Linked DNA regions of Homo sapiens: region 1 is linked to region 2. Evidence: fine-mapped expression QTL. A gene starts in region 2. The other region holds a variant in brackets. All regions are shown on one strand. Distances are between the middles of the regions. Region 1 overlaps MRPS10 (mitochondrial ribosomal protein S10). Region 2 holds the start of GUCA1B (guanylate cyclase activator 1B).

The links. PIP is the estimated chance that this variant, and not a neighbour inherited with it, causes the effect.
Region 1: its variant is fine-mapped to the expression of GUCA1B in whole blood (TOPMed, PIP above 0.99).

Annotation. Positions count from the first base shown.
Region 1 is chr6:42,212,146-42,217,523 of GRCh38, forward strand. It overlaps MRPS10 (mitochondrial ribosomal protein S10), which reads right to left. Exons shown (of 7, transcript NM_018141.4): 2 at 2,135-2,199; 3 at 1,975-2,047. Among named protein-coding and RNA genes, the nearest start is that of MRPS10, 3.0 kb to the right of the region's middle. RefSeq lists enhancers at 3,828-4,430, 4,431-5,032. The variant T/C (reference allele first, on the strand shown) is at 3,029.
Region 2 is chr6:42,192,538-42,197,915 of GRCh38, forward strand. GUCA1B (guanylate cyclase activator 1B) reads right to left here and starts at 2,419. Exons shown (of 4, transcript NM_002098.6): 1 at 2,077-2,419. The coding sequence starts at 2,283. RefSeq lists a cis regulatory region at 4,910-5,378.

The sequences.
Region 1 (5,378 bases), 20 kb after region 2:
CAACCCACAAAATTACTAAAGGAACTTTCCAACTTAAAATAACGATTCAGCTTCAAATTCACAATGAAAAAGGACTCCAGGGTCTGCTAGTAAAGAGCCTGGGCAGAAGACTTGGATTGAGGATTAAGCTCTGCTAATGGTAGCTGAATGACAACGGACAAATCATATCGTCTCACTGCACATTAGTTTCCTCACATATGAAAGAGGGTAAACCTATGCTATTGCTCATAGTATTTCTCTAAGAAAAAAATAAGAAAACACAGATTAAAGTGCTTATTAATTATAAAACATTATTATACAAAGCCAAGTTAGTTCTATTCATATTTTTTATTAGGTTTTATTCGCGTATGTTTTGTCTGCCCTAATAAACAAATTACTCATTTCTAATTTAAATGATATGACACTGACTATACCTATAACTTCAACCTCTTCCACCCTAATACCTAAAGACCTTAGAAATAATGGGTTTGACATTTTTGACTTTCTTCCAAAAGGTGAATTACCTTCATTTCATTCATCCGTTAAACCAGTAAATTATACTACTAATCCAATGATTCAGAGTTAAATCACTTCACTCCTGAAAGATTTACTTACTAGCCAGAAAGCTAGATATCCACTCTCAATTACTCCAAAAAGGGTTGTTGGAAGAACAGAATATACTGATAGCCTGTGTCCTAAGTTGAGGGATGAGAAGGGGGAATATAGCCTCAAGATGTGTTCTGACTGATCCCTACAGGGTGTTAAAAGATACTTTGAATTTGTTAGGAATATTAAAAATCAGAAGATTTCACAAGAAAATCTGGATTTCAGTTTAGCTTGGAAGATTTAGACAGGCTGGCATCACTAGGTCTGATTTCCCACAGGGCAACAAGTGGCTAGAATAAGTAGCTGCTGTCTTGCTTATAAAGACAGTGGCACACCATGCCAATTCTGCCACCTTTTCTTATAGGCCTGGCTCCTGCAGGCATGTGAGTTGCAGACTGGGGCTTAAATGTACTATCATAGAAATACATCCAGTACTGGCCAGGTGTGGTGGCTCATGCCTGTAATCCCAGCACTTTGGGAGGCTGAGGCAGGCAGATCACTTGAGGCCAGGAATTTGAGACCAGCCTGGCCAACATGGGAAAACCCCATTTCTACTAAGAATACAAAAATTAGCCAGGCATGGTGGTGTGTGCCTGTAATCCCAGCTAGTCGGGAGGCTAAGGCATGAGAACTACTTGAACCCAGGAGGCTGAGGTGAGGTGAGCCGAGATCATGCCACTGCACTCCAGCCTGGGTGACAGAGCGAGACTCTGTCTCAAAATAAATAAATAAATAAATATCCAATATCTATTAAGAGAAAAGTTAGAAAAGAGCAGTAAACTAGACATGTGCACAGACAAAGTGAGTACCTACAGACAAATGTCTAGAACTGTAATCCCAAACTGTTAAAGGGGGTTATTTTTGAGGGGTGGAAATGAAAGGATTTTTAAAAATTACAAGTAACACAAAAAACTGGATTGATGAAATCATAGCTTCTACAGGGTTACCAAGTTCCTTCTAGATGTTTATTATTTGTGCTAACGCATTTTCTCACTGTGAACAATAAAGCACTGTCCAGGCCCAGGCTCAATACACAAAATGAAAACAAAGACTTGAAGGCTACAAGAAAAATACTTTTCCATAACATAAATCAAGTATTCTACATCACAAATTCTGACAACTCTTCCATTATGCCAAGCTAAAAGCAAGAGACTACTAATTAACACAGTTATTTGGGGGTAAATAATTTATTCCTTTAGAACTTACTTTGATACCCTGAAGACAATATAATCCAGGGAGTTAAGAGAATATATGCGTTGTGCATTTGCCAGTATTCTAGGACAAAATTTTTTTATTCATAGAGTGTTTGGGGAAAAAAAACCCAATGAAATAATAAGGAAAACCTATTGCCAAGGTAGCTCCTTATACCAAGAAACAGGGAGTACATACCACAGGTTTGGTCAAATCCTTTGGAACATCAACGTGTAGGTTTGAAAACTGTACCCACTTCATATTGGTACTGCTATGTGTGGGGAAAAAAAGAGAAACCTAAGTAAAATAGCACAAGAACCTATTTTGTTCAATTTAGCACATCCAATTGTATACTTACAGAAGCAAGCCACCATTTTTGGCTGTATTGCCCTTAGAAGTGTTTACAGAAAAATTCCCCAATCCCTAAAGAAAAAAAAAGTAGGACATGTGTTAGAATTAAAGTCAACTACCAAACCATTCATAATTTCCACTAAAAACTAAAAGGTTACCTCATTATTTCAGACGAAGATACTGGGGTAACTAAAATGGCCAAATTAGATTGAAAAAAAAAAGAGGACAATGGTAGAGCTGATGATAAAAAAAAAAGCAGTCTCAAAATACTAGAGAATCTCTATTTTAAAGATTAGGAATAAAAACTTTTTCAAAAAAAACAATTCTCACATTTAAAAAAAGCTATGAATTATGTGGACATCAAGAAAAAATGTGACTTCATTTTCCCATTATTTTTTACAAATTAATTGTACTTCAGTATAATACTTATTTTGCCTGAATATCTTTAAGCAATAAAATATATTGTTTTTATAATTTGTTAAGAGTTGGAATAAAAATTCTGAAGTATCCCTCTTTTGATGCTTTCATACATCTTTTAAAGCATACATATTTCTTAGCTTGGCTGGGATAACTAGCTTATAATGAACTGAAATATGTGCTGTGACTTATACCCATCATTAACTACTGTGCCACATGCTACAACGAACCCACATTTCCAAATCCTTTACCATCAGCTCCCCCTGGTGGAACAAGACTTTCCAGTTTTAGGAAACAAACGATACTACTACATATAACAGCTGTTTTTTCCTTTCAACTTTTCTGAGATTTTGAAGTGTAACCTGAGAAAGTGGAAACACAATAGAATCCTTAAAAACACAATGAAGATGAAAATAAGGCCAGGTGCCGTGGCTCACACCTGTAATCCCAGCACTTTGGGAGGCCAAGGTGGGTGGATCACTTG[T/C]AGTCAGGAGTTCCAGAGCAGCCTGGCCAACATGGTGAAACCCTGTCTCTACTAAAAATACAAAAATTAGCCAGGCATGGTGGCGGTGCGGTTGTGATCCTAGTTACTTGGGAGGCTGAGGCAGGAGAATCGCTTGAACCCGGGAGGCGGAGGTCCAGGCTGGGTGACAGAGCGAGACTCCCTCTCAAAAAAAAAAAAAGAAGTTTAGCATAAGTGAAGTTTCATTAATACAAATGATTGTCACCTAAGTACGTTTTTGTTTGTTTTTTCAGGGTTTTTTTGAGACAAGGTCTCACTCTGTTATCCAGGCTGGAGTGCAGTTGCATGATCATGGCCTGGACCTCCCAGGTTCAGGTGGTCCTCCCACCCCAGTCTCCCAGATAGCTGGGACTACAGGCACGGGCCACCAGGCCCAGCTAATATTTTGTACTTTTGTAGAGATGGGGTTTCACCATATTTCCCAGGCTGGTCTTGAACTCGTGGGCTCAAGCGATCCTCCAGCCTCAGTGTCCCAAAGTGCTGGGATTTCAGGAGTGAACCACCACCTAGCCACGTTTTAAAAGCCTATTCTTAGCTTATTGTCCTTCCTCTCCTTACCCAAGATAGAGACAAATCATAACTCTATAATCTTCTTTGCACCAAAGGGGAAAAGGAAAAAGGAAATCAGGTACAACACAAAGTGGTAAGAGGTATGTGCCATTCTTCAGACAAAATTGCATAGAAAATTCCCTCCCAACAATTACACCAGTGACCCCACAATCGAGTTGTGCAAGAGGAGCAAGAATATTACACTTCTCAGTCACATTCTCCCACTATAAACCTCTGCTTTTTCTTTTCTTTTTTTTTTCTTTTCTTTTTTTTTTTTTTTTTGAGAGAGTCTTGCTCTGTCGCCCAGGCTGGAGTACAGTGGAGCATTCTCAGCTCACTGAAACCTCCGCCTCCTGGGTTCAAGCAAGTCTCCTGCCTTAGCCTCCTGAGTAGGTGGGATTACAGGGGCCCACCGCCACACTCAGCTAATTTTTGTATTTTTAGTAGAGACGGAGTTTTGCCATGTTAGCCAGGATGGTCTTGATCTCCTGATCTCGTGATCCGCCCACCTCGGCCTCCCAAAGTGTAGGGATTACAGGCGTGAGCCACCGTGCCCGGCCAAGAAGTTTTTAAATTGCATTTTTTCTTTGTATTTCTTGAGAGAGAGAGAGAGAGAGAGAGAGAGTGTGTGTGTGTGTGTGTGTGTGTGTGTTGGGGGAGTGGTGGTTTGGAAGGGAGGGCTGTCTGGGTAAATTTGTCTTAATAAAGCAGTTCAAAAATTTCAATCTCTAATACCATCTGACTTTTCTCAAGAACAGTGGTTTTCAGGCCGGGTGCGGTGGCTCAAGGCTGTAATCCCAGCACTTTGGGAGGCCGAGGCTGCCGGATCACTTGAGGTCAGGAGTTCGAGACCAGCCTGACCGACATGGTGAAACCCCGTCTCTGCTAAACATACAAATACTAGCTGGGCATGGTGACGCATGACTGTAATTCCAGCTGCTCGGGAGGCTGAGGTAGGAGAATCACTTGAACCCGGGAGGTGGAGGCTGTAGTGAGCCGAGATCGTGCCATTGCGCTCCAGCTTGGGCGACAAGAGCGAAACTCCGTCTCCAAACAAAAACAAAAACAAAAACGGTGGTCTCAAAGTGTAGTCTGAGGACGTCTGTGGGGTCTGAGACACTTTCAGGGGATCCGGGAAATCAAAACTATTTTCATAAAACCAAAACGTCATTTACAACTTTTCCACTCATTCTCTTACCAGTGTACAGTGAAGTTTTCCCGTGACAGCCTGAGGTGTGATATAGGAAAAGATTAAATACAGAAGCAGATTTGAATCTAGCTTTTATTAAGCCAGAAATTAAAGAGAGCTGCAAAAATGTAAAACATTGCTGCTCCTTACTCAGTTTGTTCAGAAAATATATTTTTCATAAAGTATTAGTTGTAACATGTAATGAGTTAGTGTTACTTTTAAATCAATATATATTCTTAAGTTTTATTTTCCAAAAAGCTAAATATAGATAGCAAAAACCCACAAAAACAAAAGCTCTCTGGAGTCCTGAACTCCGAAAGTGTAAAGTGGTCCCAAGGCCAAAAAGCAGGAGAACCGCTGCTGAAAAGTTTTTGCTCCTCCTGCAAATAACTGCGCAGAGGATATCTAACCCACTTCTCTGGCTTGAGACCTTCATCTAAATTTGGATGCCAGGAAAGCATCTCAATTTAGTTCCATGGGAAGAGTCTGATATCTTGCACCAGCTCAGCCTCTAATTTTCGCGAGGCAAATTTCCTGTCTTCTCTGAGCCTCAGTTTATTTTGCAAGCGTGAA
Region 2 (5,378 bases):
CCCGTTTCTACTAAAAATACAAAAATTAGCCAGGCATGGGAGTGTGCACCTGTAATCCTAGCTACTCAGGAGGATGAGTCATGAGAATTGCTTGAACTCAGGAGGTGGAGATTGCAGTGAGCTGAGATTGTGCCACTGCACTCTAGCCTGGGCAACATGGCGAGACCTCATCTCTACCAACATAAATAAATAAATAATACAAAAATTAGCAGGCATGGTGGTGCACACCTGTAATCCCAGCTACTTGAGAGGTTGAGGTGGGAGGATCCCTTGAGCCTGGGAAATCAGAGGCCGCAAAGAGCTGAAATCATGCCACTGGGTGACAGAGCGAGACTCTGTCTCAAAAACAAAAAAGAAAATACACACTGAAATACTTAGGGATAAACGGGCATGATATCTATAGCTTTCTCTTAAAAAAAGTATATGTATAAATTATGTATCATGTATATGTATATATACTTATAGGATACATTATATATATGTATGTATACAGAGAGAGGCAGAATGATAAAGTAAATGATATAAAATGTGAATAACTGGGGAAATTTGGATAAATTGCATATGGGAGTTACTTGTATCATTCTTATAACTCTTCTGTAAATTTAGAATCATAGTAAAATTAAAAAGTTATTCAAAAAGGAAAAAACATTGATGAACATCATATGCCGATTTATAAGAAGAGATGAGGTATAAGGAGTACAACTATATGCCTAGGGGCTTAATCAGCCCTTTGGATCTTGAATCATGATCGTATTGATTTTTAGATGAATCTGGGGAAGATTGATGGACTTAAATGAGTCTTATTATTTATGACCTGATATATTTGTTTACTTTTCTTACATTTTAAAAAAACATCAATTATTTTAAAAAGTCATCTTCTCTCTTTAAAAAACCTGCCTTCTAGGCAGGAGCACTTAAGACCTTGGGCAAATCGATTCATTCCCTTTTGCCCAGCTTTCTCATCATTTAATTTGGAATAACAAAAGTCTGCCCCTCCCACCCAGGGTTGCTGCTGATTCAGAGGAGACCTAAGAGAGGCGGAGCGCTGAGAAGTCCGAAACTGGCTCTGTGCCCTGTGGGGTGGTCGATGGGGTTCATCTCTAAGGAGGTTCTGTTGAATTGAAGGTGCTGACCTCACCCTCCTGTCCCGGGACAGGCACTGTGGGGACGTGCACTGACTGGTACCAGCGACAGGATGAGACCTGAAGTGGCATTCCCAGTGATTCAGCTTAGAAAGCTAAGTTCTCCACGCACTGAGGAATGGAGAACTGACACTTTCTTCAGATTAAATTGGTATTTGAGGCAAATACCAGGGCATTTGAGGTATTTGAGGTATTTGAGGATTGCCAGGGCACTGAACTGGATAACCTTAAATAATCAAGGGGTTTTTAACTGAATTGAAATTTAAAATTCAATCCCCTGGTGCATTTACAAGATGTGTTATCTTCTTAGCTGCTAGTGACATTGTGGGCTTAGAGAAACTCTAGTCTGAATGATTTAATGAAACCTTCCAGGACTTGAAGAGCTGAAAGGGGCTTTTGCAGTCATTCGCCCAGTCTCCCAATACATGCAGGAGCCTCTTCCAGCATTCTTGACAGGGAGGATCTGACCAGTCTCAGAAGAACCCCAACAAGAGGGAGCTCATAGCCCATGCTAAGATACCTTGTCTCATTTAGAACATCTCTTTTGCTCCTAGTGTTTAGAGTGACAGGGGCTCTGGCAGATGCGAAAACCCGGTCATTGGGCTGCAGAGTCTTGGTCAAAAATACACAAAGAGAGGACCTGGACTGTCTGCCAGTCGCCCTTCAGCTCTCAAGAAGAGGACACAGGGAGCATCAGCCGACAGCTAAGAGATGGAGGGAGGGAAGGAGAGACAGAGAAGATGGAAAGGGACAAAAGGAAGAGAAGAGACAGAAGGGTTTGGTGAGTGAGACAGAAAAGGTAAAGAGAGACGGAGTGGAAAGAAGAGCAGAGAAAGAGCCGAGGAGTGGGGAACTGGGAGCTCTCCCTGAGGACACTTGTGGAGGAAGGCGCCAGGTGGACTGGCCACTGGTCCTTCCCTTCAGGGTGCCTTACCCCATTCTTGTCGAAGGCTCGGAACATGCCCTCTACATACTGGGAGGCCTCCTCATCGTCTGTGACCTTGAAGAAGCGCTTAAACTCATGCATAAAGAGTGTGCCGCTGGGGCACTCCATCACAAACTTCTTGTACCACTCCTGGAGCTCCGCCACATCTATCTCGCCAGCTGCCTCCGCCTCCTCCCAGCTAAACTCCTGCCCCATGCTAGCCCTGAGGAGCATCAGGGAGCAAGGGTCTGTATCTCCTCCCTGGCTTCTGCTGATGGATCTCTCCAACTAGGGCCCTCTTCCTCCCTTTCCAGGAGGCCTGATCAGCCTCTCCATCATCTCCTGGGTGACTGAACATGATCAGTCGGTGCAGGGGGCAGGTGGCAAGGGAGGTGGGTCCAGGCCAGCTAAGCTGCCCTAAGACTATTAGAAGATTCCCCAGGTGGCCGGGTGCGGTGGCTCATGCCTGTAATCCCAGCACTTTGGGAGGCCGAGGTGGGTGGATCACAAGGTCAGGAGTTCGAGACCAGCCTGGCCAACATGGTGAAATCCTGTCTCTACTAAAAATACAAAAAATTAGCTGGGCATGGTGGTGGGTACCTGTAATCCCAGCTATTCAGGAGGCTGAGGCAGGAGAATCACTTGAACCTGGGAGATAGAGGTTGCAGTGAGCTGCGATCACACCACTGCACTCCAGCCTGGGGGACAGAGTGAGACTCTGTCTCAAAAAAAAAAAAAAAAAAAAAAAAAGAGATTCCCCAGGAAGTTCTGACCTCCAGCCTAAACTCCTCCAGCCTCACTCCTTCCCTTAGCCTTGTCAACAAAGCAACCAAGCTGGCCCTGGTAGACTCTGAAGAGGTAGAAGGGGAAGAAACTGAGAGGTAAGCAGAGAGATGCAGAGTGAAGAAAGAGTCGGGGTGCTAGGCTGGGATCCTCCCATCTCACTCACTCCCTATCTCTTTAGCTGGGCCTCACATTGCTTCAGGGAGGCCCATCTTGGAGACAGGAGACTCAAATCCAGAGAGGAAGTGAGATCAAGTCCTAGGCCATAAAACAGAATCTGCTGGTGATCTGGGACTCGCCCCTCAGACGGTCTAGTGAAAAGAGGCAGAATCTATGATGGGAAGGGCTCTAGGTGAGCAACTCTCTTCCCAGGCTAACTCGGTCCCTGAAGCTCCTTTCCAGATTACACCTTTCATCTTGGGAGCTTTTCACTTTCTGATTTAAACTACAAATGCCTCCCTCCAACCCTTCACACAAGACCTAGGGGTAGTGCCTTTTTCACATTTCCTCCAAAATACTAACATGTGAGAAGGATCTGGGAGCATGGCCTAAAATATCTTTGAAGGCTCTTACTTTTACATTATAGGTCATGTAAAATTTGCTTTTGAACAATTACATATTCATGCTTATTTTAATGTAACATAAAAATGACACCTCCAAGAAATCAAAAGACCAGGGACACACATTTTTCTTTTTCTTTGCTTTTTTTTTTTAAATTTCTATTTTTTGAGACAGGGTCTCGCTCTGTCGCCCAGGCTGGAGTGCAGTGGTGTGATCTCGGCTCACTGCAACTTCCGCCTCCGGGTTCAAGTGATTCTCATGCCTCAGCCTCCCGAGCAGCTGGGATTACAGGTGCACACCACAACACCCAGCTATTTTTTCTTCTTTTTTTTTTTTTTATTATACTTTAAGTTCTAGGGTACATGTGCACAACATACAGGTTTGTTACATAGGTATACATGTGCCATGTTGGTTTGATGCACCCAGCAGCCAGCTAATTTTTGTATTTTTAGTAGAGATGGGGTTTCATCATGTTGGCCAGGCTGGTTTCAAACTCCTGACCTCAAGTGATCCACCCGCCTTGGTCTCCCAAAGTGCTGGGATTATAGGCATGAGCCACCACGCCCAGTGACACTCATTTTTCTAGAAGACTTCAGAGGCAGCAGTTCCAGTGAATCTATCCTTAACCTACCCATCCCTCACTGGGTGTTCAGCCTGAATTGTTTTGCACATCTCCAGGCCTGACCTCCTCTCTCACTGTTCTCTGCCTCCAGACGTCACTGAGCTCTGAAAGCTCTTTTAACTTTCTTGCTATTCCTGAAGGAGAAATGTGATTTCTTCTGTCATCCTTTCAAGTGGTGGTGGGTTTTTCTCCCCCACACACACCTCAAGGTCTAGATAACAGGGCTAGTGTCCTCCTCGCTTCTAACTCTTGCCTCCAAATGGCCTTTTACTTTTTTCTCCCCAAAAAAGGCCAGTCCCTTTGAAGCCACATCTGACTCCTTGCCACTATTTACTTCTCCTCATTACTGTCATTCACTGGTGACTTCCCTGCTTGTCTCAAAGCATCATGTCAGTCATTTCAGTGACTGTGACCTCCAAGTGGATAAACAGCCCATCCCATACACTGGCCTCAAAGGTACTTGATCTCTCTCTCTTTTTTTTTTTTTTTTTTGAAACAGAGTTTTTGCTCTTTTCACCCAGGCTGGAATGCAGTGGTGCGATCTCGGCTCACTGTGAACTCCGCCACCCGGGTTCAAGCGATTCTCCTGCCTCAGCCTCCCTAGTAACTGGAATTACAGGTGCCTGCCACCATGCCCGGCCAATTTTTCTATTTTTAGTAGAGATGGGGTTTCACCATGTTGACCAGGCTGGTTTCGAACTCCTGACCTCAGATGATCTGCTCGCCTTGGCCTCCCAAAGTGCTGGGATTACAGGCATGAGCCACTGCGCCCGGCCCCAGTGAGATGTGTGGGGGTCACACTGCCCTCTTAGTCTCTAATTGCTGGCAACCTGGCATGGTCCCACATGCGTAAGCCACCGGGCCTGGCCTGGTCCTTGATCTCTTTAGTTCCAAAGAGCTTTTCTTCCACCTTACCTAGTACTTCCATTCACTTGTGGTCCCTGAGCCACAAGTGCAGCATCTGGGAGCTTGCTAGAAATGCAATGTCTCAGGCCCCACCTCAGACCTGCTGAATCAGGAACTGTGGGCTGGGGCCAGGAGTCTGTGTTTTAACAAGCCCTCCAGGTGCTTCCAATGCGTACTGAAGTTTGAGGATCACCACCCTAGGCCTTGCTGTCACCAATCTCTACTACCTCTGAAACATTCAAACGCTGCCGTCTGTTATCAGCACCCCACCCCTTCCATCTGTTACTGTAATACCTTCACTCCAATAATTCACTAATCTCATTGCGACTTCCAACCTGCTGATCTGTTTTTAACATCTGTCATCTTGCTCATCTCCTCACTCTCCTCCTTATCTTCATTCCATGGCCCAGCATTCTCTCCATTTTGACTTTTGTGCCCC